Linked DNA regions of Homo sapiens. The protein of the gene in region 1 purifies or fractionates together with the protein of each later gene. This does not show direct contact. Each region holds a gene or a part of one and is shown in the gene's direction. Other genes may lie near its edges. The genes, in order: NAP1L1, RPL36AL, MAGED2 and NAP1L5.

The links.
Region 2: the proteins of NAP1L1 (region 1) and RPL36AL purify together in Homo sapiens (affinity purification with mass spectrometry; 3 studies listed by BioGRID and IntAct, with this or other methods). This does not show direct contact.
Region 3: the proteins of NAP1L1 (region 1) and MAGED2 purify together in Homo sapiens (affinity purification with mass spectrometry; 5 studies listed by BioGRID and IntAct, with this or other methods). This does not show direct contact.
Region 4: the proteins of NAP1L1 (region 1) and NAP1L5 purify together in Homo sapiens (affinity purification with mass spectrometry; 5 studies listed by BioGRID and IntAct, with this or other methods). This does not show direct contact.

What each region holds. Positions count from the first base shown.
Region 1 is NC_000012.12:76,081,381-76,088,810, reverse strand, and holds the start of NAP1L1 (nucleosome assembly protein 1-like 1), read left to right. Parts: upstream 1-4,125; 5' UTR 4,126-4,244; intron 4,245-4,868; exon of another isoform or gene 4,869-4,978; intron 4,979-7,430. UniProt on the Homo sapiens protein: Histone chaperone that plays a role in the nuclear import of H2A-H2B and nucleosome assembly.
Region 2 is NC_000014.9:49,617,458-49,624,959, reverse strand, and holds RPL36AL (ribosomal protein eL42-like), read left to right. Parts: upstream 1-4,333; 5' UTR 4,334-4,398; intron 4,399-5,819; 5' UTR 5,820-5,855; coding exon 5,856-6,176; 3' UTR 6,177-6,430; downstream 6,431-7,502. Other genes in the region: MGAT2 (alpha-1,6-mannosyl-glycoprotein 2-beta-N-acetylglucosaminyltransferase precursor), read right to left, coding at 2,348-3,691.
Region 3 is NC_000023.11:54,802,540-54,810,744, forward strand, and holds the start of MAGED2 (melanoma-associated antigen D2), read left to right. Parts: upstream 1-5,205; 5' UTR 5,206-5,263; intron 5,264-5,806; exon of another isoform or gene 5,807-5,894; intron 5,895-6,541; exon of another isoform or gene 6,542-6,684; intron 6,685-6,763; 5' UTR 6,764-6,792; coding exon 6,793-6,837; intron 6,838-7,182; coding exon 7,183-7,674; intron 7,675-8,205. UniProt on the Homo sapiens protein: Regulates the expression, localization to the plasma membrane and function of the sodium chloride cotransporters SLC12A1 and SLC12A3, two key components of salt reabsorption in the distal renal tubule.
Region 4 is NC_000004.12:88,694,998-88,702,589, reverse strand, and holds NAP1L5 (nucleosome assembly protein 1-like 5), read left to right. Parts: upstream 1-4,760; 5' UTR 4,761-4,835; coding exon 4,836-5,384; 3' UTR 5,385-6,677; downstream 6,678-7,592.

The sequences.
Region 1 (7,430 bases):
ACTTAAAGGGCAAGTCATTGCTCTGGGAACTTACATACATTTCTCTATTTCATGCTAATAAAGACACAGATTTTATTATAATTATTAATGCATTTTTCAGATAGGGAAGCTTGAAGATCAGAGTGGATAAGTACTTTTGCAAGGTCACAGTGTTGAAGGAGCCTATACCTGTCTGATGTTAAAGCCTATGCTTTTTTTTCTACTACATAGGGGCTGAAACACAGACACAAGCACAGGTAAAATACCATCTTTGTCATCAAATTTCTTGTTGATCTTCATAGTTCTTATCCAATATTGAGAAATGTTGACTATAATATTTTTGTGGTAATTGGTGTGGATTATTTCAGCTCAGGAAAATGTCTTTTAAAAGCTGTGACTAGATAGCTTTTAATAAAATATGTCACAAAAAGTGTCAGACACTATCAGAAGACTTCGGGGTAGTTCCTTAAACCTTTAAATAAAACAAAAATAAAAACAAAACTTCAGTAAGAGGTTAAAAATGGTTACCTTTTATTGAGCGGTCACTATATATGTCAGGCATTATGTTAAGCAACTTAAATGTGTTATTTAAAGTTTCACAGCTGAGCCAGGCACAGTGGCTTACACCTGTAATCCTAGCACTTTGGGAGGCCGAGGCGGGTGGATTGTCTGAGCTCAAGAGTTTGAGACCAGCCTGGGCATTGTGCAACCCCATCTCTACTAAAATACAAAAAAATTAGTGGGATGTGGTGGCGCGCACCTGCAGTCTCAGCTACTTGGGAGGCTGAGGCACAAGAATTGTTTGAACATGGGAGGCAGAGGTTGCAGTAAGCCGAGATTGCGCCACTGCACCTCAGCCTGGGTGACAGAGTGAGACTCTGTCTCCAAAAGTTTCACAGCTGGGCAAGGTGGCTCATGCCTGTAATCCCAACACTTTGGGAGGCTGAAGTGGGAGGATCTCTTGAGTCCAGGAGTTCAAGACCAGCCTGGGTAATATACCAAGATCCCTCTTGACTTAAAAAAAAAAAAATTTTTTTAAGTTTCACAACAGCCCTATGAAAAATGCATGCTTATTTTCCCCATTTTACAGATGTGGAAAATGAAACCTGGGATGGCTAACTGACTTATCCAAAGTTACACAGCTATTAAGTGGTAGAAAAATGGGGACAAAATAGGCTGTTTGACTCCAAAGCCACCCCTCTAAGCCTCCAGGCTACAATGCTATAAAAGTCTACCAAATGAAAATCATGGGAGATAGAGAAAAAAGGACCTTTAATTTTAGTATATATGCTTCCAAAGAGAGCATGAGAAAAGGAACTGCAACAGAAAATTTCGCATGGCCCAAGATCAGTGACCAGGGTCACCATTTATTGCAATTAAGTTAGATGAGTTAACTACATTGTGTGATTTGGGGGTATAAGAGGGGCCAATGTAAAAAGCTCAAAGGTGGCCGGATGCAGAGGCTCACACCTGTAACCCCGGCACTTTGGGAGGCTGAGGCAGGCGGATCATTTGAGGTCAGGAGCTCGAGACCAGACTGACCAGCATGGTGAAACCCCATCTCTACTAAAAACACAAAAAAACTAGCTGGGCGTGGTTGCGCCTGCCTGTAGTCACAGCTAATCGGGAGGCTGAGGCAGGACAATTGCTTGAAACCGGGAGGCAGAAGTTGCAGTGAGCCGAGATCGCGCCACTGCACTCCAGCCTGGGCAACAGAGTGAGACTCCGTCGAAAAAAAAAAAAAAAAAAAGCTCAAAGGTATCTTCAGGTCAGTCACCTCCTACCCCTTTTCTCATTTTATTTTCTTTATAGCATTCACTTATCAATTATTTATTATTGATAAGTGAAATTGTTTTATTACTAATATTTTATTAGTAAAATTATTTTATCTCTAATCATTTGCCTCACCTCACTAGACCATAACTTCAATAAAATCAAGAACCGTGTCTTTCTTACTAAATGCTGTATTTCCAGAGTCCGAAGTTGTGCCTGACATAAATATTTGTTGAATGAATGCATAAATGTCTGCCCTTCCCTGAACTTTAATGGCAAAGACTTAGATTTACAAACTGGTTCAAAAGACTATATTACAAAGGCATGCATTATTAGAAATATTTTATTGTTTAGTTTCTTAGATTGGCTAGGATACACTGAAAAAAGAAGAGGAAGCTGGAGAAAAGGGGGAAAGAGCATATGTACTGGTAATGATAACACCTAAGTTATAGGGGTTGGTGGGGGGGTGGTGAAACCTAAAAAATCCAGAGCCTTCATGAGCGAAGTGCCGAAAATTGATGAGGCTCTCTGGTGTGGGATAAAAACCACCACAAAAGCTAACTTCTCAATTTTGTCTCAGAAATTCTGCTACCATAAAGATTTATGGAAAGAAAGTGAAAGTTATTTAGTTCATTTTAATATGCTAATTACCTTGCATCGTGCACAGCTTTGATTAAAATGCAACATTCCTGAAGTTCTTATTGAAATTAATGTGTCAAATTTATGTTCAAACTGAGCACTGGTCTACCTTGTTTATGTATAGTGGGTTCTTCCTGAAGATCCATTATTGATGCTATTATGCTCCTTGTATCATTACATCATTGTTGAGAAGGGTGTACAGGAATAGGCTATGAGAACAACAAAGGAATTGTATATGAAAAACTAAAATGAATGAATAAACAGAGTCGTCTGCAGTATAGAGTGGGAAGGCAAATAATTTCAATGAGGTTCTGGAGGGCCAAGGAAAACATTGTATCCCCTAAAACGGAAGATAAAGTTGCTAAATGTGTGGATTACAATAGGGGATTCTAGGCAGTTTGAAGTTTCAATAAATGCAAGATTTAGAGAAGAGGTTCTCAAACTTTGTGGTCTTAGGATTCCTTTACACTCCTTTAAAAGTTGAGGACCCCAAAGAACTTTTATGTGCATTACTGATACTGATATTTATATCAGAAATTAAAAGTGAGAAATTTTAAGAGTATTTCATTTAAAAACAATAAAGCAATCAAATATTAACAAAAAATAATTTTTATATGAAAAATAACTACTCCCCCTTGCCCCCAAATCGAGTTTTTGCAAATCTCTTTAACGTCTGGTTTAACCGCAGATGACTGGATTCTCCTATCTGCTTCTATTTTCAGTCTGTTTCCTTATCACATGTCACGTAGCCTCCGGAAAACCCCACTGTACACTTGTGAGAGAATGAGAATGCAAAAGGCAGTCTTGACATTAATATGGAAATAGTTTTGACCTTCCCCATGAAAGGGTCTGGGGACCCTCAGACCATACTCTGAGAACAACTTTTTGAGTTAGTATTAGTCAATTCATCATCACTTGAAAATTAGCTATGAGGTTTTACAAGCCTGAGGATTTAATGTGATTTACTTTTTCAGAAAGATGAAACAACGGACGTACTGAGTGTCCTCATTATAACGCATCCAGAGAATGCACAAATATGCCATTTTCATCCGTCAAAAGAACTGAAGCCGAACTGACGGACTGTACATCAGTTACGAGGATGTGGCGGGGGGTTGGGGGGCAAAGGATGACGAGCACCCCCTAAAGGCGCGGAGACCCGCTGGCATAGGAGAAGCAAAACTGTCAGAAGAGGCCGCCGAAGTGGTCTAGAGGAAAAAACTGTTTTTCTTAGGCGGGGAAGGAAAACGGTTACCGGGGGCCGGCGAGTTGCAGGAATTAGGCCTTGACAGGGAGCGTCCGCCGTCTAGGCTGCGGCGAGCGAGGGACCAGGCGACTGGCGCCAGCCCTGAGCGTTCCCAGCACAACGCCGAAGGGGGCGGGGCGGGCCGGGCGCCGGGCACGCGGGCCAGGCCTTCCCCACAACTGATGGGGTTGAAATTTCCTTTCCGGCTCAGCAGGGAGAAAAGATATGGTGGGGTGCTTAACAGAGGAGGTTAGACACCGGCGGGAACCAGAGGAGCCCAAGCGCGGCGCCTGGGCCTCGGGGCTGCAGGAGTCCTCGGTGGGGGTATGGAGGTCGCCGGGGAAGGAGGACGGTTCAGTTGCTAGGCAACCCGGCCTGGACCCGCCTCTCGCTCGCGTTGCTGGGAGACTACAAGGCCGGGAGGAGGGCGGCGAAAGGGCCCTACGTGCTGACGCTAATTGTATATGAGCGCGAGCGGCGGGCTCTTGGGTCTTTTTTAGCGCCATCTGCTCGCGGCGCCGCCTCCTGCTCCTCCCGCTGCTGCTGCCGCTGCCGCCCTGAGTCACTGCCTGCGCAGCTCCGGCCGCCTGGCTCCCCATACTAGTCGCCGGTAACGGATGGGGGCCTGGAAGGGAAGGGGGAACGTGGTGTTGGCTGGGCGGCCTGCGCAGATGGGAGGGCCGGAGGGATGGAGGGACTGGGAGCCGGGAGTCGGGGCCGCTGGCCGCCCGTGGCCTCCGGGGTCGTCCTGTGAGGTCGGACAGGACCGCGGAGTCCGGACCCCGGAGCCTGAGAGGGGCCCCGGGGCCGACCAGCGCTTTTATCGGGGACGGCTGAGGCGACGTAGGGGTTGGCGCGGCCTGGAGGCCTAAGGTTCTCTGAGCTCCACCGTCTTTTCCGCGTGGACCGGAGCGAGGCCGCGGTGACGCCCGGGTGCCCTGAGACTCGGCTGCGCCGCGAGGACCGGGAGGCCCCCGGCGTACGGGCCGGGCCGAGTGCAGAGCCGGCCGCCTCTTGGACACCCCCCTGCTTTTCCCTCAAAAATAATACCAGGAGGGAGGCCGCTGGGAGATGAAAAGAACGGCGGAGGCTGCGAATTCCGACGGGAGGGAGGGGCTGTGGAGGGACGAGTCCCCGAGGCGGGGAGGGGGCGGGGGAGGCTGCGACGCTCCCGGGCTCTCCGCCCATTGGGGGCGGCCGCGCGGGGAGGGGAAACCCCCGGCGGCTTCGCTCCACACGTGGTAATGGGCTTCATGGCCACTGGCTGGGCCTGGTTGGAGACCCTTGCCCTCGGTCTGTGCTTACTTTGAAAGTTGTAGAGACGGTGGAATGTGAAAAGGAAGGGTAAGCGAGTAAGCCCTGTCCCTGGGTTTCAAACTCTTCCCTGCTTCTCTTTGGTCTTAATCTTTTTATTGGTACCAGAGATTGTGGATGTTAGCTGATGATAAGGAAGGGCCTCCACTGCTAGTATTTTAAAAAGTTAACGCGTATATAGCGCTTATATTAACTGTTATTAGCAAAAGGTTGTTATTGTGTTTCCCAGGTACTGTTAGATGGGTGTCTTGATCAGGGTTTTTTATTTGGGGAGTATTGATCCTGATCGATCTAAACCCCTAAACCAAGCTTGTCCAACCCGCGGCCCAGGACGGCTTTAAATGTGGCCCAACACAAATTCATGAGGTTTTTTTTTTTTTTTTTTTTTTGGAAAAAAAAGCTCATCAGCTAGTTAATGTATTTTACGTGTGGCCCAAGACAGTTCTAGTGTGGCCCAGGGAAGCCAAAAGATCGGACCACCCCTGCAAACGGTTCTTAGATGAAAATAAAATGTTTGGCCCTTTATGACTTTAATTGTTCTTGGCTGTCTTATAAATTAGTTCCTTTATTGAAGTCACTAGAATAAGATACTTAACGGTTTCCTTTTTAAGATGGGAGGTGGGATGGAATGAGGTGTTAGTATAAACTTTGCCAAGTTTGTAGCCTGCAACCTTGTCAATGAACCCTACTGCCCTAAAGATCTGGGGGATGGCAGTGTAGGGGGGCTGGGACTGAGGTCCCATCTGGGAAGGCTAGACTTTGAGAGTGCAAAAAGGATGAACCAGGCGCAGGATGTCCTCAAGGAGCCCGTATTTTAGACGGTCACTGATCAGTTTTGAAACAACTACATTTTAAAAATCTCACTGCTACATTTGAAGATATCCCACTGCTGCATTTTAAAATTTACACTGCTTGCCTGGTTTCACAAGAGCTGTAAAATGAAATTTGGCCTTTTGAAAATAGGTGGATTCAAAACATCTTTGGAAACGAGTATCTGGGTCCTCTTTTTTTGGTCAGCTTAAATTAATACTCCTATACTTTGGAAGTAATATACATTACCTTTGATTGAATAAGGGAAAAACCTTTTATGTATAGGGTACCATTTAAAAATCGAAGGGAAGTAAATGACTTTTACAGTTATTTTCAAGGCACTCTTGTGTTTCAAGCTTGTTTGAAGTTGCCCAAGTTTAAATAAATGGCCTAAATCTATAGTTTAGTTCTAAGAATACTGTCCTTTGGAGAATGTATGGAACTAAACCCTGGTAGGTGGACTTGGACATCTTCTGTCATAAAACCTGACTTTCATAGATTCTCCAAGTCAACATTATGTTAGTAAATAGAAATTTAAAAGTTTTCACTATACCAATTTGAATATCTTTCTAAATTTTATCTGCTACAAAGTGCCTATTTTTATATTAGGCCCATTGATTTGCAGAATTATAAAGCTAATACTGAATATGGTAAATTACTGCACTTGGCCTTTAATGAGATTTTTGAAACGAATACCTGTACCATAACTAATGTAATCCAAAATGCCATCTCATTTTATTCAGCTTGCTCCTGTTGGCTCCTGGTAAAACTGAGTTGATTCTAAATTCTCAAAATATATTCAAAACTAAGGGTCTTTTTGTAGAAGGGGCTAAAGAAGCAGTATCTGTTGGACTTCAAAGGTCTGAAGATGTCAAAATACAATATTTTATTCACTTCTTGGTTGTAAATTTGAAACAAAGGATTAGAGAGAATGACTCATCAATATCAAAATATTAATGATCAGTGTATTCAGATCTTCAAGTTTAATCAAACCTGTAATTGTGTTCTCAGTTTAGTCTTTGGGTAACTATCTAGCACCTGTATGGACATGTATCTTATGTCATGAGCAAAAGAGGCAAATTGGTTGCTTAGATGTAGAATGTTAAATTGTGATGAGAGCTATAAAGGAAGGAAAGGGTAAAGGGGTCAAAGAGTAATACAGCGTTTACACAAAGGAACCTGTTATAATTTGATGATTTTAAGTTCCATTTCAAACTAGTTTCATCTAAATAAGTTTTTGGGCAGAATAGGGGTTAGAAGGAGAGAGTTGTTACTTTACACCTATCCATATGTAAGTCGTTTAGCACAATGACTACAGAACATTAGAGTACATTAGTGGGCTTGCCATAGAAAATGGCTTCTATACCTTTGGTTACCAACTCTGCCTTTTACTTCCTGCATATTTGTATATATTTTTACTTATTCAGAAGTTTTGTACATTTTAATTTTTATTGGGAAACAGGGTTATATATATTTTTTCCTTGTGGAGACAGGCTCTTGCTGTGTTGCCCTGGCTGGTCTTAAATGCCTCACCTCAAGCGATTTTGCCTTGGCCTCCCAAAGTGCTGAGTGTATGGGTGTGAGCCACCACACCTGTCTAGAGTTATAATTTCAGTCTTGGAATTATTTTCTAAAGAGGGTACAGAAGAGCATAACAGGGATAAATAATGTA
Region 2 (7,502 bases), on another chromosome or scaffold:
TCAGCTCTATATTTTGTCACACAAACTATATATATTTTTGTTACATAAAGTATATATAATAGATTTAGTTATTTAGTAATGATTTTCAAAATTCAATTTTGAAGTATTTCTTAGAAGTTATTGAAATATTAAAACATCTTGTGGTTTTATAGAAATTTAAGAGTAAAACTGGAATTTTTAAAATCTGGCAATTTGCTCTGATAGGAAAATTGCCTTCATTACATTATTACACAGAAAAACAAAAAAAAGCCAGTGTTTCCTAATCACTTTCTTTTTTTTTAAGAGATGGGTCTTGCTATGTTGTCCAGACTGGATTCAAACTCTTAGGCTCAAGTGATCCTCTCATCTCAGCCTCCTGCATAATCAATTTCCTTTATAACACCTAAAATGTGAGGCAAAGAGAAGATCCTAACAGGTTTTTTTCTTACAAAAAATTTTAGGGCAGCCAAAGAAAATGAAAGGAAGGAAATACAGAAAGGGAAATATTTGTTGATTTAATCACTAACCCCAAAGCCAGGAGCTGATCTATTTGTTTCAAAAACAGCTACTACTTCACACTCTGGCCTTCTTAGCTCAGTCCTGGAAATAACCTAATTTTTTAGTTCTTTGAACTAGTGATGTCAGGTCAGAGTACCAGAAATAGGTACAAAGCCTCCTGATTCACCCTTATTTATAACCCCCAGGCAAAATCTTGCACCAGACTGGGCCGTGGGTAAGTCTAAAGGTAGCTCGTAAAGCAAGAGAACTATTTGCCTCACCTTAGATAAGCATATGTGCTCTTAAACTACTATGAATCTTAAATTGATGCAATAATTTTGAGACTGCCATTTAATAGTTACAAGTTTAAGTAACTTTTTTTTTTTTTCTTTAGATGGAGCCTTGCTCTGTTGCTCAGGCTGGCGTGCAGTGGCACGCTCTAGGCTCACTGCAACCTCTGCCTCGAGACTCAAAGGATCCTCCCACCTCAGCCTCTCAAGTAGCTGGGACTACAGATGCACCACTACACCCGGCTAATTTTTTGTATTTTTAGTAGAGATGGGTTTTCGCCATGTTGCCCAGGCTGGTCTCAAACTCTTGAGTTCAAGCAATCTGCCTGCCTCAACCTCCCAGAGTGCTGGGATTACAGACATGAGCCACCACACCCAGCCCGTAATATCTTTACACAGAAATTAGTCTTTTATGAGAAATTCTCGGTTGAATGCAATTACAAATTAAGGGAAACTTCTATAAACGTCTACATTAAATATGGAGCAAAATTTAAGCCTGTTTCCTATAATTTTCTGTATCTGTCCTTTTAAAACGTATGATTTAAGTTAAAGCTGGCACTAGAAAGTATTTCACTTTGGCATGACTGAACTTTGTATCATTTCTGGCTTTCAAAAACAATTTAGGCTGTATTTCCCTTACACAGCAACTTTTTATCATTCATTTTCAATGCCTGGGTAATTTGAAAGCCAAACAGTTTCTTGCACAGGGAATGCATTGTCATAAGCTGGGTTTTATTTCAAACTCAATTATACAATGTAGCAATAGTAAATATTAAAATGTAATGCTAACTCAAAACTTGTAGAATGCCTTCACTGAATTTTGGTATAAAGAGTAAACAAAACTTATTCTGCAAAAGGATTAGGAACCTTTTTATGCAAAAATGAGTATTTTATTTTGTCAGCACTAAAAGAAAAAAAAAAACAAAACCACTGTATTTCTACATTGAGGTGAAAACAATGTTTAAACTTTCTTATCAATCAAATACATTCCAAAAGAAAGTGTGTTCTATGAAGGTTCCAAAACACACTCAAAACACAATAGTACAGGAATCTAATACTGAAAATGACTGTTCTGACAGGGTGTTTAACAAACATAACTTTTAAATTATTAAACCAGTGAAGCAATCCCTTCCTAATAAGTGTGTCAAGAGAGTGAAACTGGGTTTGTTCCATTAATACCCTAACAATTTCATCGTAATACTTTTTACTGCTATGACAGTTTTAAATAAATTTTGCTGTACTTAAAATAGGTTTTGAAAGTGGAAAAGTGTACAAAGTTTCAGATAAAAAGATTAATAAATGCAATTTAAATAAAATTTCCCCTCTTCTCTCATATCAACAATAATCAATTTTAGCAGATAACAGATTGAGCTTTAAAACCCTACTCCCAAAATGAAACCTTCAGTTTTAAATCTTAATCAGACATAACTGGAAAAGATTACTATGTATTTGGACACCTTTTACAAGATTTTGTTTTTGTATTAAAGCAGAAACCAGTTCCTAAACTCTTTTATTCAATTGTATGTCCTGTTTGGACAAATATCAAAAATAGAAGACTGTCGCTTTTGTAACTGTGATTTTCACTGCAGTCTTCTATAACTTTTACAGAGTTCATGGTCCCTAATATCTCCCCACCCTCCATTTTTTCTAGGTGGGGAAATGGCTACCACAGTAAACTTTTCACTGATAGTTAGAGTTTCTGGAAACATGTATTGTTTGTTATTATTTAAGAGTGACTCAATTTGGGCACTCTGAGTGGATGGTCTACAGGTTTTCTTGTGATGCATACCACAGTCTCCAGCATGAAAGATCCTAGGAATTTGAGGAACCAGCACTTTCCAGAATTTTGGAAGACAAGATACAGTCAAGTATTGAAGAGTCCAGTCCCAGTTATAATCATCATAAGTACAGAAAGTGTCTGTGCACTCGATCAGCTTCTGATAGGCATTCCGGGTCAAGGCTAGACCCATATTGTGCTCTGTGGATTTCCAAGTTTTCACATCTACCTTGTCAGCCATGCCATAGAAACTGCGACTGGCACTATAGGTCCCCAGGGAGAGAACATCACATTCAGGGCACTCTTGCTGCTTCAGTTTCCACATCTTTTTGAAGACATGGTAAAAGTCTGGGGCTAAGTAGTGATCCTCTTCTAGGAAAAGTATAAGGCCAGCATAATCTCGAAGAATTTTCACTCTTTCCCACACAAAATGCAGCTTCCACCACCAGTGATGTTTGGTCTGGGAGAATTTGGCCTCTCTATAATGGCCGAAGGAGTCGGGATACTCAGCATTGATGCACCCCAATTTCAAAGCGGCATTCTTCGGCAGGTCTCTGGGACAATCTCTAGGGTCACTACCTGGAAACTCGTTAGGGTACAACTGAATGCTGAAAGGAAAGAACACCTGCAGAACCGGACAGAAATTCACCCCGGCGATCAGCTGATTGATCTCGGTCGACCAGAAGTCATGGCTAAAGATGACGAGGACGTTGTCAATTCCCTGGGCTTTTCGAAGTGAGTCCAGCAGCAGTCTGAGGTATTCGGGCCGGTTATGCACCTGGACCACCAGCACCAGCTCCCGGGGGGCCCAGGTGCCAGCCTTATCTACATTCCTCAGGGTCTGATCAAAGTTCAGCTGGTACACCAGGGACCGGTACCGCAGCGTCAGGTTGTCCGCCTCGGGCTGGGGGACCGCCGGGACCAGGGAAGCCGCCGACACGTTGGAGACCCTGCGGATGCCCACAGCCACAGAGGGGTGGTCCCCACCGCGGCCGCCGGCACCCCGCGCGGGTTCGGCGTCCAGCAACGGTGGGGCGAGGGCCTCGTTCTTCCTTTGTCGCCCATTGCTGCTCCAGAGGACGAAGCCGCAGGCGGCCACCACGAGCGTCAGGATTAGCACCTTCCGTTTGTAGATGCGGAACCTCATGGTCTCCAGGGCCGGGAGCGCAGGCGGGCGGGCGCGGAAAGGAGCAGCTGCTTCTGCACGGAAGGGGCGGGCGGGCGGCGGCCGTCGCCTTGGCCTGTCACGGTCGGAACTGGCCCCCGCGGCTGCCCTCGCTAACTCATCCCGGGCCCCGGGGGTCCTGGGGCCCGAGACCTCTCATTTACCCCGCGCCGCCTGCGCTCCACACATCCTCGCCTGGCAGCTACAGCTCGAGCATCGGCGCCGCCGCTAGGAGCCGCGGCTCGGCTTCGTCTCCGTCCTCTCCATTCAGCACCACGGGTCCCGGAAAAAGCTCAGCCGCGGTCCCAACCGCACCCTAGCTTCGTTACCTGCGCCTCCAGCGGCCCTGCGTCCTCTGCGCTCTCATCCTTACAGGGGCCCTAGACGGCCAGAACTGAGCGACGCGGCCTCGCCTCACTCCGGCGGGGACCGTTATGACAACCCGCAACTGCCCCGCGGCACACCGCGGCCCTCCGGCCCACACCCCTCCGGCCCGCCCCTTAGACCGTTGGTTGGTGCTTTCCAGACGCGACCGAAGGCGCCTGACCGCCGTGGCCGGCTGCCTATTGGTTTGCAGTACTGTCGCTCAGGTGCAGTTCCCACTTCCGCCTGTTTCTTCCCTTTCCTGTTAGGCGAGAGCTGCGAAAGGCGAGAGCTGCGAAGGGCCAGGTGTCGGGCGCTGTTTCTCGGTAAGCTAAGAACGAGGCTGTAGCGGCTCCAATAGGAGCCTCCCTTGCTCAGAATCCTGGGTAGGACTAGGCCTTCTTAGGAAAGGGAAGGCGAGACCTATGGCCCTCGCCGGCCTTAGTTCGAGAGCAGGCTTCTCCCTTCAGGAAAAAGGTCTCAGGCATGGCGGCTATAGAATCGCGGGGCGCGCCGGCTTGATAAGGACACGTCAGCCCTCGAGGCTGCTGACGGGTGACTGTGCTTCGGAGGGGAAAAGTGATACTACGCTGATGTGGTTCTCGTAGAAGGAACGGGGCGGGTCGTAACCGTAGCTACAACGTCGCGCGCTGCCCCAGCCATTCTCTAGAGCTGGAAAATGGAGGAGGTGGGTGGGGGGAAGGGGGTCAAAGAAACTCTGGTCCTTAACTTCCTTTTCGGAAGAAAATTAGATGAACCGCACTTTTCTTTTGGAGCAGTCACAATAAATTAAACTCATTTCGTACGGAAAACGGACTGTATTGGGCCTCCTAAAGCTGCTGCTGTCGGTTTTCGTGAGTCTTGTTCTATATGAGAAAAGAAGAATGGCTCGGAGCATTGTTAATTATTTGAGATGTGCAAAATTTGCCGGGCCCAGAGAGACAGCAGTATGGGACTTCAGACACCTCCCCACTTAATGCCTGGCATTTTATTCCTGACTAGCTGCTTCACCCATTATGTCCGCGTTCCTGGAATTTGTCATGAAAAGAATGATGTATAGCCAATCAATCGCTTGTGTTATTTTAATGTAAATTCTTGGTAGACAATTTAGGAACTGCCATTTTTTCCTCTAAAAACCCACTTGCAACTGCTGCTACTCAGGGCATTTTGAATCTGTGCTCTGGGTTGCAATCCTCAAACTTGCCCCAAATAAACATTCTACTTATATGAATTGTGCCTCAGTTCTTTTTTTTTTTTGAGACGTAATTCCGCTGTTGTTGCCCAGGCTGGAGTGCAATGGTGCGATCTCGGCTCACGGCAACCTCCGCCCCTCCCCACCCCGCCCAAGCGATTCTCCTTACAGGTATGCACCACCACCACGCCAGGCTAATTTTGTATTTTTAGTAGAGACGGGGTTTCTCCATGTTGGTCAGGCTGGTCTCGAACTCCGGACCTCAGGTGATCCGCCCTTCTCGGCCTCCCAAAGTGCTGGGATTACAAGCATGAGCCACCGTGCTCGGCCTTGCCTCAGTTCTTTAGGTCGACAAATTAGTCCTCCAGTAATTTAAACGAAGTGTTTCAAAAAGGTATGTACTTGTATGTGCGTTTATTCATATGGAAAAAGAGTACGTGGTGGATTTATATATTACTCATTTATGTGTACGGTTTTCCTGTATATACTTGTATAGCACTTTCACTTTTCGGAATGTTTAACGTCTGCTATCTTATTTTAAATATTTTACTACAGTTTTCATCATATAGACAAAACAGCCCTGCTGCAAAGATGGTCAACGTACCTAAAACCCGAAGAACCTTCTGTAAGAAGTGTGGCAAGCATCAGCCTCACAAAGTGACACAGTATAAGAAGGGCAAGGATTCTTTGTATGCCCAGGGAAGGAGGCGCTATGATCGGAAGCAGAGTGGCTATGGTGGGCAGACAAAGCCAATTTTCCGGAAGAAGGCTAAGACCACAAAGAAGATTGTGCTAAGGCTGGAATGTGTTGAGCCTAACTGCAGATCCAAGAGGATGCTGGCCATTAAGAGATGCAAGCATTTTGAACTGGGAGGAGATAAGAAGAGAAAGGGCCAAGTGATCCAGTTCTAAACTTTGGGATATTTTTCTTCAATTTTGAAGAGAAAATGGTGAAGCCATAGAAAAGTTACCCGAGGGAAAATAAATACAGTGATATTCTTACGCAAACTTTTTGTGGTTTTTACTTATAAATAGAATTCCATGTTTAGTGTAGTCCCACCTCAAACTTTACTAACAAGTTTATATATGTATGAAGGGAAAATACTACTTTACTACTTTTTGTTTTCTGGTCAATTTCAAATGTTGAATGAATTCATAAACATTGAGCAGCTTAGAAGGATCTTTAAGATTTTGCAAGAGAAGGAACAAGATAACGCTAGGCTTGTGTATAGCAGGCTGGGTTGGGCAAAGGATGGAAGTTGGGGGATAGTAAGAGCTGACCAAATATTCTGTCTAGTAGGGGCCGCTAGCCAGGTAATGTGTTTCCTGTTACACTAGTCAGATTTAGTACTCAACAGCCACGTGTGGCTAGTTTATTGGACAACACAGATGTAAAACATTTCCACCGCAGAAAGTTCTTTTGGACAGTACTGTTAGAGACTGTGGCCTTGAATATAAAAGGATAGTTCAAAATTGACTTCACACTAAAGTTCTCAATCTAGTGAAAGTCCAAGATAGCATAAACTGTTTTTTGAACCTCTTAGAACACTCTGGGAGGTACTCAAAAAAAAATTTTTTTTTGAGACAATCTGTCACTGTAACCCGCACTGGAGTGCAGTGGCACATTCATGGCTTACTGTGGCCTCTCAGGCTCTGTAGCTCTGTAGGTCCTGCCTTAGCCTTGGAGTAGTTGGGTACCACCATGCCTGGCGAATTTGCCTGGCTAATTTTATTTCTTTTTTTTTTTTTTTAAAGATGGGGTCTCACTCCTGGGCTCAAGCAATTCTTGAGCCTAGGCTGGTCTCAACTCCTGGGCTCAAGCAATTCTCCCATCTCAGCCTCCCAAAGGGTTGGGATTACAGTGTGCTACTGTGCTTGGCCAGAACTTGACAGTTAGGAAGGTTTAGGAGTTATGACTGAAAACAAGAAGGTTGAAATTCACAATGAAAAAAGTTGAGCCTTGTAATTATGAAAGGCAAGAAAAGTTCAGTATCAAGTGAAAAACTGGGAAAAGGTAGGGGTTATAAGAGGTCAAATTCTGCCTTTTGTATATGAATTTAAGTTGACTAAGATACATGGGAATGACAGTAGTTAGAGGAATGCAAAGGGCTAGGGTGTGTAGGAGTAACAGATGGTTTGCACATAATCCCAATAACTGACTATTATAGCTGCATTTGATTGTAAAAAAAAATGTAAAAATCATGTATACGAGTTTATTTTTAAATACATCACCATCAC
Region 3 (8,205 bases), on another chromosome or scaffold:
TCGCCTTGCCTTGGGCAAGTTACCCCTCTCACTTTTAATATTGCCATCTGTGAAATGAGGCTAATGTTCACACAGTATAAAAATAAACCCCTTAAGAGCAAGGGCCACCTCTGGAGAGGTGTCTAATACATAGTTGGTGCTCATTTTCTGTTGAATGGCCTAATCATAGCTCACAAGCTTGTGCTGAGGAAGGACTCAATATACAGAGAACAGGGGAGAATGAGGGTTAGTCCAAAAGTGGGTAGCAGGTTTCCTCATCTATGGGAAATTTGTCTTTTGTTTGACAAAATGTCATTTTTGCTGTGGAAAGGTAACCCTTAGGGCTTAGAGTGAAACAAAGTTAACTAAATTGCCCTACATATAAAAGGGGAAAAAATGAGATTTCACCAGCAGCTCAAGAAAGAAGACATAGGCCAGGTACGGTGGCTCATGCCTGTAATCCCAACAATTTGGGAGGCTGAGGCGGGTGAATCGCTTGAGTCCAAGAATTTTGGACCAGCCTGGGCAACATGGTGAAACCCCATCTCTACCAAAAATACAAACAAACAAACAAAACCCCAAAAATTAGTAGGGCGTGTTGGCATGTGCCTGTAGTCCCAGCTACTTCTGGAGGCTGAGGTGGGAGGATCGCTTGAGCCCAGGAGGTGGAGGTTGCAGTGAGCTGGGATCACACCACTGCACTTCAACCAGAGTGACGGAGTGAGACCCTGGGGGAGGTGGGGGGAAGACAGAGAGAGAGAGAGAGAGAGAGAGAGAGAGAGGATATAGAAGCCTGGAAATGGAAAGGAGAGAAGTTGCCAGCATGTTGGGGGACAGAAAGGGTCCAACAGGGGTGGGGCATGGGGCCTAGGAGAAGGAACAATTATTAGGCCTTTCCCAGTGGTGGGAATGGTTATGGAAATCTGAAGAACAAGAAAGTCTGATGTCCAATTTAAAGTTGATTTCTATGCTGAGCTGCATGGTTTAAATGACTAAAGAAATGACAGGCAGCCTTAAAAGGAAACCTTTGCTACCCTCTCCCAAATTTTCCAAAATTCAGAGATACGGATTCTGTATAGTTTAGGAGAAAGTAAATGTGCTAGGATAGGATTGGTGGTGGGGATATTCTGGGCTTTCCATTTGAGCTTCAGGAGTCTGGAGTCTTGGATGCCTGTGGGACTAGACAGTTCCATCTCTACATTCTGCACTAAGCAATCCTTAGCCTGCCTTTCCTTATCTCCAGAACAGAGCTGCCTGATGATAACGGCTTTTCATCTTTCCTCTTAGTTGATATGTAGGATCTATATGGTCTCAGATATTTCTCTACTGATTTATGGGTGCTAGAAATGGGCCTGAGACCCAGTGACCTAGGTTCTTCAGAGTTTATGGGTGAATGCTGAAGATCAAGATTCCAAGAGTTCACAAGGAGAAGGTGGGAGGAAATCTCTCTGGTCAAAGGGTAAAGATTATGAACTAATTTGTCTTTTCTCCCCCGATAAGGCTGCCTCCTATCCTCTGATCCCCAGGTCATAAGATAAGGTTGTTAATGGTATTATGTTATGAAGGTGGTGGAATTGAGAGGGGTCTGGGGAAGTTTGGGTTTGACAATCTTTGGGAATGCCTCTCTGATGGATTTGGACTGAGATTTCTTCTGACTTCCTGAATCCAATAATATCTCCTAACGTTCTGACTCTGTATTCCTTTAAATTACCCCAGGATCCCAAAGACCACAACTGGGACCTAAAACATTGTGAAACTTAAAATGTTGGAGGTTGTAACCGAGCATAGATATACCAGAAGGGTAGTTGTAGCAGAGGGTGTTCCCCATGGGGACAAAATTGCATAACAAAGGCTCCTAGGCAAGAGAAGGCAGGGCATATCTGGTAATAGTGAAGTGTTCTGTTTAGGTGGAATATAGGCAACTATATCTAGTACTCTCAGAAAAACAGCAGGAAAAGGGCTGGAAAAGCAGTCAGGGCTGGATTTTGGGAGAGCCTTGAAATCAAGCTCAGGCGTTTCTTGGGAAAGCATTCCATACCCATTGTCATGTATACCTCACCTGCTATTCATATCTCAACTCACTGCAATCAGGAAACTGTTGCATGGAATAGACTCTGAAATAACAATAGCTTAAATAAGACATACATCTATTTGCCTCACCTAAAAGAAATCCAGAGGTAGGCAGTTCACGTTGGCTTCATGAAATTGTTACGGATCCAGGTTCTTTTTAGTTTACTAATCCAGTATCCTTAGAGTGTGACCCTAGTCCTCATGGCCTTTATTCTGGGAGGCTATGTATCTAGCTAAAAATCAGGTGACTTATTACTAAGGAAGAAGAGGAGGATGAATACTAGGGTAAGCAATTAGCAAGCTATGCCACAAACATGTGCACTGAAACTATTCCTTCCAAGGTCACCAGAGACCACCACTTGATCGTCAAAATCCCCAGACATTTTTTCAGGTCTTACTTTTCTTGATTCTTGGCACCATTCATCACTATTGACCTTGACTCCTCCCTCCTTTTGAAACAATCTCTTCCCTTACTTTTGTGACACTCCTTTCTCCGGTTTTTTTTTTTGTGTTTGTTTGTTTGTTTTTTTTGATGGTGTCTCACTCTATCACCCAGGCTGGAGTGCAGCGGCACAATCTCGGCTCACTGTAACCTCTATCTCCCAGGTTCAAGCGATTCTCCTGCCTCAGCTTCCCGAGTAGCTGAGACTACAGGTGTGGTCCACCACACCCAGCTAAATTTTTGTATTTTTAGTAGAGATGGGGTTTCACCGTGTTGACCAGGCTGGTCCTGAACTCCTGACCTCAGGTGATCTGCCCACCTCAGCCTCCCAAAGTGCTGGGATTACAGGTGTGAGCCACCATGCCCGGCCCTCTCCTGTTTTTCTCTCTGCCTCTTTGGTCACTCCTTATCAGCCTCTTTCATGAGTTTCTTTTCCTCCACCTATACCAAAGATGCTGTTGGACTGCAGGGCTCTTCCGTGGGCCCATGTCTCTTCTAGCACTACGCATTCACCGGGGTGCTGTTACCCTTTCTCAGGAATTCAAGAACTATTTATGTACTGATGACTCCTAGATCTATAACCTCAGCCTAGACCACTTCTCTGAGCTTCAGATATGTATATTCAACTGCCTGTGGTACATTTCCACCTGGACATGCCACAGGTGCCTCAAAAGCAATGTTCAGTTCTTGTCTAACCTGCTCCTCAAACCCGCTCTTCCTTCAGTATTCCTGATCTCAGTGAAAGGGGTTACCATTCACACAATCTCTCAAATCAGATCGCCAAGAGTTCCCTTTGACACTCCCCTCCTCCTTGCCCTTCTCTTCACAATCCAGTTACTCAAGTCCAGTTACTTTTTACTTCTTTACTATCTCCTCGATTCAATCACTTCTCACTATCTGCCACCACTCTAGGCCAAAGCACAATCATTGCTTACCTAGATGACTACAAAAGTCATAAGCACTCTCCCTGTTTCCAAGACAACACCTAATCCACACTCCATATAGCAGCTAGGTGTTCTTTCTAAAACACAAACCTATGCTGTATCCTTGCCTAGAATTCTTTAGTAACTCCTGGGTGCTCTCAGGATCAACACCAAAGTCCTCATCTTGGCATTCTAAACTTGCCAACTTGCCATGATTTGGAAGGGGTGGGGAATTTGAGATGCCAGAAGTAGAAGAAAAGGAGGGGCTATGTCTAGTGTGGATAAGGGAGAAAATCTAGGAGGCAAGAACATGGTGAACTGATATCACACACTTGGAGAAAGCAATAATTCAGAGAAAGAGAAAAGACAGGAAAACAGAAGCCTGCCTTGAATATGCAAGAAATTTGTGTGTTTGTCTATCTTGAATTATCCATGGAACACAGGGATTCATTATATGTTATTTACATAGTAAAAGGTGACCACATAAAGCAGAAGACTTGTGTCCATTTGAATTACATTTATATGTGGAAAGGCACTGAATATTATTTCTGCAACTAACAGTTGTGCTGAATTTTATTATGGTTTCTAATAACTTTTTAGTTGATGCTCTTGGGTTTTCCAGGTCTGCATTTATATATTCAGTAATTAATGATGATTTGTCTATTTCCTATTATTTTACATCTTATTTTGTTCTCTTGAACAGATCCAATTGGTTATGTGAATTTATTATGTGATAGAGGTGCCATTTCAAAGCAGAGAGGGAAAAGATGGATTAGTTTGCACATGATGTAGAGGTAAGAGACTATGATTTTGAAGAGTAATCAAGCTGAATCCGTATAGAAAATAAATTTTGAAATGATCAAACATCTAAATGTAAATAATAAAGCCACAAAAGTGCTTGAAAAAAAAAACGGGGTTTGTTATAGGAGTGTGAAAAGCATCTTTAAGCAAGCAGCAGAATCCAGTTGTGATGAAGGAAAAATGGATATATTTGACTACATAATAATTAAACATTTTTGTTTGGCAAAAATTATCATAAATAACATGAAAAATATTTGTAATATGTGACATGTACAGGAGAGACATTGCTGGCGGGAATGTTATCCATTTACTTTTTAGGAGTAAGTTGACAAATTTTGCATCAAAATGGAAGACTTTTTTGTAGCATTTGAGCTAGCAAAAAATACCATAAATAACAAAAAGTGCACCAAGCAATCTAAATGTACATGTGTACTGGACTGGTTCAATAAATTATGGGACATCTATGCAAGAAAAGATCATGCAGCTGTTTAGAAAAATGTGCACTAACGGAAAGATGTTTTATATATAACTGGAAAAAAACAGGTCGCAGAACAGAAGGTATGTATAGTGTACCATTTGTCGGAGAGAGAACCTGAATAATTAGTATACGAATAGAAAAAAAATCTGGATAGCAAAATGTTAATAGTGGTTATTTCTGGGAGATGAGTGGCCTTTCATTGGTGTGTTATATATTACTGCATTGTTTGAATTTTTACAACAACAACAAAAGAACAACATATTACCTTTGTAATAAGAAAAAATGAAGATATAAAAATAAATTCAATGAATGACTTGCTTTCAGGGGGCGGTTTGAGTTGGAAGAGCTTCAGACTGAGCCTGGTACAGTGGCATAAACATGGGCTTTGGCGTCAGACAGCCCTGAGCGGGGCCCCATTGCCCCACCCCCGAGGAAGGCGAGGGGGGGTGGCAGGGGGCTGCGGAAAGGGGCTGGGCTGGGTTGGGCTGTCTGCAGCTCTAGTCCAGGAGGCTGAGACTTCGAGAGGGACTTAGAGAAGGCAGACGCATCCCGAACTCGCTGGAGGACAAGGTGAGGGGCGTTGATATTGGGGTTTTATGGAGGTCAGACAGTGGTTCCAGACCCCTCGAACCCATAGCCAGGCAGATGAGCAATTCTTACTGCACCACTGCAGCTGAAGCAGAGGTGACCTGGAGTGGGGTGTAGGCAATGAGGACGACTGAGAAAGTAGTAGGCTGTACAGACTGGGAGCAGAGACTAGCGGAGGGAGGAGGGGAGAAAAACGGGGAACCAGGAATGTTGGGAGGGGGACGAGGAATACAAGGAGGGAGGGGAACACTGAGGGGGAGTGAAGATCCAGAGAAGAGAATCGGGGATGCAGAGAGGGATTAAGGAATACTGAGGGGCAGGGTGTGCAAACGTAACACGGAGGAGGATGTAAGAAATGGGAAGAAGGAATTCTGGAGTAAATAGGAAATGTGAGGTAGGAATAGGGAGTAGGGAGCCAGGCTAAGGGAATACGGAGGGGGGCATAAGGAATGAGGAGCAGGGAGCGGGGGAGGGGCAGACAGGCTGGGACGGAGGCCCCCTAGGGAGGCGGAAAGGGGCGGGACCACTTCCGGCCTAGAGAGGGGAGGGCAGTCTCCGAGTTTCGGAGGGGCTTGGAGTGAGTGGACGCACTCGGGAATTGTAGGAGGACGAGGTGAGCAGCCGGGTCGGCTTTTGGATGAGAGCCCCGCTAGGGGTCGGCCCCACCCTCTGGGATCTGGAGAAAACCTGCCTTAAGGACCGGATCGTACCGGATCCATCCGGCTGGGAAGGGAGGGGACTGGACCCGGTTTGGCCGGGCCCAAGATGGAATCACTAGCTCAGTATTTATTTGAGGAGGGGGTGTAATAGGGAAGGGGCGGAACCAAGATGCGCCTGTTTGGAGGGGGGCGTGTTAGGAAGAAGGGCGGGGCCAAGAGACACTGGACTCTGTAGGGCGTGAGTAGGGGAGGGGCCGGGTCCACCAGACACTGCGACAATTTTGGAGGAAGGCTTGTTGGGCAGGGGGCGGGACCGAATGGTACTGCGGACCTGGAGAGGGGCGTGTGTTGGGGCAGAGTGCCAGACTGAGACCACGACCATTGCGCATGCGCACTATGTTTCGCTAGAAAGGGGCGTGTTGAGAAGGGCCAGCACTGAGAAGAGCCAGCTGCTGAATGCGCATGTGCACGGTGGACATCAAAGAAAGGGCTCGTGCTGGGAAAGCGGGCGGGGCTGAGAGCGGCCCTGCAGCCGACGCGCATGCGCTCTATCGACCTGCGGCTGGGTGGGGGGTGCACTGGGAAAAGGGGCGGGGTCCTCAGAGCTGCCGCGCTGGCACATCTTCCTGGAGAAGGGGAGGGTGCGGCTGCAGAGAATTGAGACTTAGAAGCTTTGAATTCCTGTATCTGAGAACGGAGTCGTTGGGGGTGGTGGAGGGGGTTGGAATTGGGGACCTACGGAAGGTGAGGATCAGCCTCCAGGCACAACAGGGGAGAGGACGTTCAGTGGGCTTCAACTTGACCCAGGCCTTCTCCCCTTCAGGCTCAGCTCTTGCCAGGCCAAATTGAGACATGTCTGACACAAGCGAGAGTGGTGCAGGTCTAACTCGCTTCCAGGTAAGGCCTCTTTCTGTCCTTTCCCCAGCTGCTTTTCCTCTCCAGCCCTTGTTGCTGCCCCCAAGTCCCTTGGCTCTTCCCCTCCCATCCTTGTCCTTCTCCACCTACTTTCCTGCCTGGGTGTCCCCCTGCCCAGTGGAGGGAGGGAGAGAAGGTGGGCGGGCCCCTCTTCTGCCATCAGTTCTTGCTCAGAGGAAAGGGAGGCCTTGTTGGGCTGAGGTGGTCAGAGCACACCGCAGGTAGGAGTCAGTACAGGTCAGAGAAGTGTGGCCTTGGAATTTTGGAGCCATTTGCTTAGTTGGGGGTGAGGAGAAGGTCTATGAACTTCCCTGCTTCCTCTTGCAGGCTGAAGCTTCAGAAAAGGACAGTAGCTCGATGATGCAGACTCTGTTGACAGTGACCCAGAATGTGGAGGTCCCAGAGACACCGAAGGCCTCAAAGGCACTGGAGGTCTCAGAGGATGTGAAGGTCTCAAAAGCCTCTGGGGTCTCAAAGGCCACAGAGGTCTCAAAGACCCCAGAGGCTCGGGAGGCACCTGCCACCCAGGCCTCATCTACTACTCAGCTGACTGATACCCAGGTTCTGGCAGCTGAAAACAAGAGTCTAGCAGCTGACACCAAGAAACAGAATGCTGACCCGCAGGCTGTGACAATGCCTGCCACTGAGACCAAAAAGGTCAGCCATGTGGCTGATACAAAGGTCAATACAAAGGCTCAGGAGACTGAGGCTGCACCCTCTCAGGCCCCAGCAGATGAACCTGAGCCTGAGAGTGCAGCTGCCCAGTCTCAGGAGAATCAGGATACTCGGCCCAAGGTCAAAGCCAAGAAAGCCCGAAAGGTAAGACCTCTGCAGTCACCACCCTTGGTTTTCTACTCCTCTCTCAGTTGATTCATTTGTTCTACAAACATTTAGAAAGATCCCTGTGCTCATCAGGGCTGTGGGGGGCACTGAGAGTAATGTGATGTAATTCCTGTCTTCAGAGAGCTTGCAGACTGATGGGGAGGTGCAATCTGAATGTAATGCAGTTTATGTTTACATAGTAGCTGCCCTGTATTAGGCCTTGAGCTAAGCACATTTATGCAGGTTATCTCATTAAATCTTGAAAGTAATTCTCATAGCCCCAATTTTATGGAGAAGGAAGCTGAGTTCCAGAGAGGTGAAGCGGCTTGTCTAGGATGGTTCAAGCAGAGCCAGTAGTGGGCACAGAAAGAGAAGAAGACTCAGCCTCCACCCACCCTTGGTTTGCTCCTGGCCTGCTAGGCAGATGAAACACCTGCTTGGAAGTCAGTGAGAAACAAATCCAGGGTTCAGCATGGCCAACATCTATTGAGTCAGGCTGTTACTACAGGGGTGGGATTAGCGGGTGCT
Region 4 (7,592 bases), on another chromosome or scaffold:
AACCATAAAGCAGAGCACTTTGATGGAATTAACTAGATCTAAACTTAGCAAAATGAATAGAATCTCAAGAACAATGCTGAGTGAAAATCAAGTATTTGCATGTTCAGTAAAATATGATGGCATTTATGTAAGTTGTGTTTTAACACTTAAAACAATGCTACTTATAAAAGGTAGTAGCTCTGTCACTCAGAGCTTGTGACCCTTGGGCAAGTTATTTAACTTCTCCATGCCTGTGTCCTCATTTGTAAAATGGGGGAGAGTAAGAGTAGATAACACATGGGACTGCTTTAGGATTAAATGAGTGAATACATGTAAGAGTGCTTAAACCAAGGCTGGTGTATAACAATTACTTTGTAAGTATTAACTAGTATTATCATATTGTTTATGGATATGAGATTTTGCTTATGAGTATGAAATTATAAATATGATGCATACATAAGATGTGTAAGTGTTCATTTTTAAAAACAAAGACATTAATGTAAAAAGATCTTTGTCTAGCCAGGTGCAGTGGCTCATGCCTATAATCCCAGCACTTTGGGAGGCTGAGGCAGGCAGATGGCTTCAGCCCAGAATTCAAAACCAGCCTGGGCAACATGGCAAGACCCAGTCTCCACAAAAAATTAGCCAGGCCTGGTGGTGCATGCCTGTAGTCCCAGCTGCTCAGAAGGCTGAGGTGGGAGAATCACCTGAGCCCAGGAGGTCAAGGCTGCAGTGAGCCATGATCACGCCACTGTACTTCAGCCCGGGTGACAAAGCAAGACCCTATCTCAAAAAAAAAAAAAAAAATCTGTTTTAACATACATGTTTATTATAAAAAGTATAAAAACATAAAAAAAACATATCAAATTCATAAGAGTTTTGTCTGTGTAAGAAAGAAGGGCGGGAAGAGGGGAATGGAATTAAGGGTATGTACAACAGTATCAGTAATTTGGAATTAAGGGTATGTACAGCGGTATCAGTAATTTTTTTCTTTTATTAAAAAATCTGAAGCAAATACCTGTTGACTGTGGATCATATATACAAATGTTTGTCACATTAACTTTTTGTATTTTAGATTAAAAACAATTTTAAAACTTCACATCATGAAGATAGTTATTTACTACTTATCCATCACTGTAATTTAATACTTCATAAAGCTACATTTGAATTATTGGGTTTCCTCCAAGCAGATAGTTTTTACATGTTCACCATCCACACCAATAACTAGCCAACAAATGGTGTAATACAGTGGATAAGTGAGGCAGACAGGGGTTCAAATCCAGGCTCTGCCATCTTCTGTATCTAACTAGTAAGCCTCCCTTTTCCCATTTTTAAAATGGTATAACTGTGCAATCTTTAAAATAAAGCCACTAATGTAAAAAGATTATTGTGCATGTTAATCATTGATGCTGAAAGTTTCTCACACCGTATATAACACCTCACTTCTCTGAAACCCATGACACTAAACTAATGACATTTTTCTGATACAATTACCCAAGAGAAACACCATCACAACAATTTTTATTACAGACTGTGATGGTTAATTTTATAGGTCAACTTGGCTAGGCTATGGCATCCAGTTGTTTGGTCAAACACCAGTCTGGATGTTGTTAAGATATTTTTTTAGTTGGGATGAACATTTAAATTCATTGACTTTGAGTAAAGCAGGTTACCCTCCATAATGTGGGTAGGCCATATCCAATCAGCTGAAGGCCTTAAGAGAAAAAGACTTGAGGTCCTCCAAAGAGGAAAGAATTCTCCCTCCAGACTGTCTTTGGACTCAAGATTTAAATATTAACTATTGCCAGAATTTCTAGCCTTACAGCCTACCCTGCAGATTTCGGGTTTGACAGCCCCCACAATCACATGAACCAATTCTTTAAAATAAATCCCTCCTTGCCCCCACCCCCCTCGGCTTCACACCCTGTTGGTTCTGTTTCTCTGGAGAACACTGACATATAGATTTCGGTACTAAGAAGTACAGTACTACAACAGCAAATACCTAAAAACGCAGATGTGCCTTTGAAATGAGGAAATAGGTAGAGCCTGAAAGAGTTTTGAGGAGCTTGATAGAAAAACCTAGATTTCACTTAAGGGACTATTGGTAGAAATAGCTCAACAGTCTCAGGAAGCAGCCTGAGACTCTCACCATCTACATGCCCAATCTTGAACCTTTTAGCTAGCAGCCTCCGGTCTTCCTTTTTAGCAACACTAAACAGATTAAAGCCACTTTGGGAAACAGTGTGGCAGCTTCTTATGAAGTTAAGCGTACATTTACTGTATGACCCAGCAATCCCACTGCTAGGTGTCTACCCAAGAGAAATAAAAGTCCATGCTCATAGAGAAACCTGTAGATGAATGATCACAGCATTATTCACAATTATGAAAAACTGCAAACACCACAAATGGGAATACTACCCAATAATAAAAAGTAAAATAAAAAATAATAAAAAATAAATTTACTAATATATACAACAACATAAATCAATCTCAAATGTACTCTGCTAGTAAAAAAAAAAAGCCAGGCTCAAATGGCTACATTCATATGATTCAATTTACCTGACATTCTGGAAAAAACAGAGGTACTGAGACAGAGAACAGCACAGTGCTCACCAGGGCTGGATGCTGGGGAAGGGCCACAACGGACTTTTAGGGGACTATTTACTGTTCTATATCTTGATTACTACAGTGCTTACATTACTGTATTTGCTTGTGAAAGCACGCCCAAAAGGACAAATTTTACTGTTATGTAAATGATACCTCAATAAGCCAGACTTTTTAAAAAACAGTCTGGTTTAACACTAAGTTTTAAGATCTGTTGAGACAGGAAAATAAAAATCTTGAAAGATGAACATGCCCTAAATATTTTAAGCAAGTTAAGTTAGTCAAATGAATTTAACCAAAATGTGGGATTTTTTTTTTAAAGTCTGTCACAACATCCATACTATAGGGGTCAAAAGGCCTGTTTTCTGCCCCTGCATCTGCCAATTAAGTGATACATGCAGTAAGATGATTTCACTGTATTTGCTTCTAAGTTTACTATCTGTAAAATGAGAAACATCATTCCTAATCTCAAGGCAGCTGTAGCCATCAAAAGAGATGATATATGGGAGTGAGAAAGAAGGCAGAGAAGATGGTGAGCCAGTAAGAAGATGGTGAGCAGGGTAAAGAAGACGGTTGGGGGAAGGTGGTGAAGACCGTGGGGGAAGGTGGGGAAGAAGACAGATCGTGGGGAAGAAGATGGTGGGCAGGGTGGGGAAGAAGAGGGTGGGGCTGCGTGGGTGGGTGGGGAGGAAGAGGGTGGGGCTGGGTGGGTGGGTGGGGAAGAAGAAGGCGGGGCTGGGGGTGGGTGGGAAGAGGGTGGGGCTAGGGGGTGGGGAAGAAGAGGGTGAAGAGGGTGAGGAAGAAGAGGGTGAGGAGCGTGAGGAAGAAGAGGGTGAAGAGGGTGAGGAAGAAGAGGGTGAGGAGCGTGAGGAAGAAGAGGGTGAAGAGGGTGAGGAAGAAGAGGGTGAGGAGCGTGAGGAAGAAGAGGGTGAAGAGGGTGAGGAAGAAGAGGGTGAGGAGCGTGAGGAAGAAGAGGGTGAAGAGGGTGAGGAAGAAGAGGGTGAGGAGCGTGAGGAAAAAGTTCGGTGGGGGGAAGGTGAGGAAGAAGGCAGTGGGTGAGGAAGAAGGGGGTGAGGAGGGTGAGGAAGGTGGGGAAGAAGAGGGTAAGGAGGGTGGGGAAGAAGAGGGTGAGGAAGGTGGGGAAAAGGACAGTGCGGCGGGGGGAAGGTGAGGAAGGAGGCAGTGAGTGGGGAAGAAGGCGGGGAAGAAGATGGGCAGAAGGTGGGGCATAAGTCAGTGCGGGGGAGGGGCAGGAGGGAGGGAGAAGATGTGGTGTGGAAAGGTGTGAAAACAGATAGTGGGGAAGGCAGGGAAGCAGACGGTGTTGGGGGAAGGCAGGGAAGACGAATGTGAGCGGGGTGGGATAGATGGCACATGCTTTAACCAAGATAAGAGGGGGCCTTGGCCCTGGGCCCCATGCTTTAGAAAGACTTGCTTTTTTTCAGCCCTCCTCAAGCTTTAGTCCTTCCCACAGGCCAAAGATTCTGTAGGATCTTCTAGAACACACACCAGGACACCGGGAGCTCTGAGATTTCCTACCCAAATGGCTCCAAAACTGCTTCCAGGGGAGTCCTGCTGAGAGACGACCTTGCCACCAAGATATATGCCGCTAGGTGTGTGGGATGGCCAAGGGGGTGTTGGGTGGACACATAGGTACAGAGCTTGGATATGCAAGCTGCCCTATCCACACACATGCACCCCAGGTCCCCAAAGGGGTGGAATGGAGCCAGCTTGCCCGTTCCTCCACTGCATGGAGAGGAATGCGGAGGAATCTAAGAGGTGATCAAACGCCAGCTATGGAGAGAGATGCAGAGGAAAGCGAAGACATATGCACTGGCATTTGTAGAAGGGCCTGGATGGGGGTGAGGAGCACACGGAAAATGGTCTGAGGCCATCTATGCAGTTCCTGAAGAAGCACCTCGGGCAGCTACTGACACTCCCAGCCCAGCTCTACAGGGGTGGGTACATGGGTGGGCTGGGAACAGGGTGTCTGTCCAACAGGCGGGTGTTGAGGGCCCAGAAGATGTCAGGGTAGCAACAGGAGGAATCTGGTGCAGTATGAGCACACGGCCGTCAGCTGATAGTGGGAAGCCAGTCAAGTGCCGCGAAAGCAGGAGGCGGGGCCGCGGCCAACGTCATTCCCGCGGCCGCACGTCACCGCCACTTGCCGCATCCGCAAGATCTCTCTGGACCAGCTCGGGTGCAGGGCCTCTGCGGGAGCCCTCCTAGACCTCTGCGGCTTCTCCTCTAACATGGCCGACTCGGAAAACCAGGGGCCTGCGGAGCCTAGCCAGGCGGCGGCAGCGGCGGAGGCAGCGGCAGAGGAGGTAATGGCGGAAGGCGGTGCGCAGGGTGGAGACTGTGACAGCGCGGCTGGTGACCCTGACAGCGCGGCTGGTCAGATGGCTGAGGAGCCCCAGACCCCTGCAGAGAATGCCCCAAAGCCGAAAAATGACTTTATCGAGAGCCTGCCTAATTCGGTGAAATGCCGAGTCCTGGCCCTCAAAAAGCTGCAGAAGCGATGCGATAAGATAGAAGCCAAATTTGATAAGGAATTTCAGGCTCTGGAAAAAAAGTATAATGACATCTATAAGCCCCTACTCGCCAAGATCCAAGAGCTCACCGGCGAGATGGAGGGGTGTGCATGGACCTTGGAGGGGGAGGAGGAGGAGGAAGAGGAGTACGAGGATGACGAGGAGGAGGGGGAAGACGAGGAGGAGGAGGAGGCTGCGGCAGAGGCTGCCGCGGGGGCCAAACATGACGATGCCCACGCCGAGATGCCTGATGACGCCAAGAAGTAAGGGGGGCAGAGATGGATGAAGAGAAAGCCCACGAAGAAAAAAGCCTGGTTTTGTTTTTCCCAGAATATCGATGGACTTAAAAAGGCTCAGGTTTTTGACCAAAATACAATGTGAATTTATTCTGACATTCCTAAAATAGATTAAATTAAAGCAATTAGATCCTGGCCAGCTCGATTCAAATTTGACTTTCATTTTGAACATAATAAATATATCAAAAGGTGTTAAAGAAAACTGAATTAAACCCAAAATTATGTTTTCATGGTCTCTTCTCTGAGGATTGAGGTTTACAAAGGGTGTTAGCAGATGCGAAGTAAAGAACGTCACTTTGAAACCCATTCATCACACAGCATACGCTACACATGGAACACCCAAGCCATGACTGAACACGTTCTCAGTGCTTAATTCTTAAATTTCTTTACTCATGACATTTCGCAGTGCAGAGAAGGCAGAACCCAAGAAAAACGTCATCTTTGAGACTTTGCTTTTGTAACGCAGACATCAGCTTTACACTTCACAGGAGATTGATGGCATTGAGGAAGATTGCAATGGAGATCATGACACTACTGTTAATAAGGCCAGGAAAACTGCCATTTCAAGTTCTGAAAAATGTTTTGAGTATTTGAATTTAGAGAAACAACATGGTTCCAAGAAGGAGGGTGTAAAACCTGTAAAATACTGTCAACATATGTATTCATTAGTTACAATCTCATGTTTGTGTTTTCTTAGTACTGTCTATTTACAAACACGTAAAAAATACCCCAAATATGTTTAAGTATTAAATCACTTTACCTAGCGTTTTAGAAATATTAATTTACTTGAAGAGATGTAGAATGTAGCAAATTATGTAAAGCATGTGTATCCAGCGTTATGTACTTTGCGCCTTGTGACGTCTTTCTGTCATGTAGCTTTTAGGGTGTAGCTGTGAAAATCATCAGAACTCTTCACTGAAGCTAATGTTTGGAAAAAATATATACTTGAAGAACCAATCCAAGTGTGTGCCCCTACCCCCAGCTCAGAAGTAGAAAGGGTTTAAGTTTGCTTGTATTAGCTGTGCCTTCATTATTTTGCTATGTAAATGTGACATATTAATTATAAAATGGTGCATAATCAAATTTTACTGCTTGAGGACAGATGCATACAGTAAGGATTTTTAGGAAGAATATATTTAATGTAAAGACTCTTAGCTTCTGTGTGGGTTTTGAATTATGTGTGAGCCAGTGATCTATAAAGAAACATAAGCTTAAAGTTGTTTATCACTGTGGTGTTAATAAAACAGTATTTTCAAAAAATATATATAAAAGACTCGGTACTGTGACTGCCTGCATTCAAATCCCAGCTCTGCCTCCTATTAGTAATGTACCTTAGGCAACTCAGCTAATACTCTCAGTGGCCAGTTTCTCCTCATCTACAAAAGGGAATAGGAATAGTCCCTTCCTCATGGGTTACTATGAAGAGCAAATGGATTAATACATATAAATCCTATAGAATAGCATCCAAACCATGGTAAGTGCTGAATAATTCTTAGCTATTATTATTACATGAAAGATAAAGACAGTGATTGGAAATTCAATCCTCCTCTCCTGTTACAAAATGGGAGAAAGAGACATCACTACATCCCTCCCTATGTTTTTGATTCCTTATTATGAGAGAAGAATGTGGCCTTTAATTCAGAAATGCAGGAAATTAAATAAACTATCTTGTTTTGGTTTCCTCAATATAATATCAGGTTTTTATCATCTCCCAGAAAGGATAAAAAAGGCTATTTCAACTTTATGTTTGCTTCATTCTGAATGAAGCAGAAAGTTTTTTTTAAAAACTGGACTCCAGAAAAATTAAAAAATCAGATGCCATTTGCTTCCTTTTCCCTGAAGGGTTAAAATTACAAAGAAGCAAAATTATATTGCTTTATCCTAGGGAATGGAAGGCAGCACTGACCTGTTGCTAATCACAACAGATTGTTGAGTACAAACAACCTTAAGGTAAAGTTAATCTTCATTATGCTCAGGCCAACCAAAAGAGAAAATCAGAATAATACGTTACATACAAAGTTCTGATTATCTTAATCATATGATTATCTTAATAGAGAAAAAATCTAATAAAATTTAATATTGATTTCTTATATCCAGGAATGAGAGAGACTATCATTTTACTATTTTTCTGGTTCCAGTAAAAAGCAAAAACGATTGAAACACAACTAAGAGGCATAAG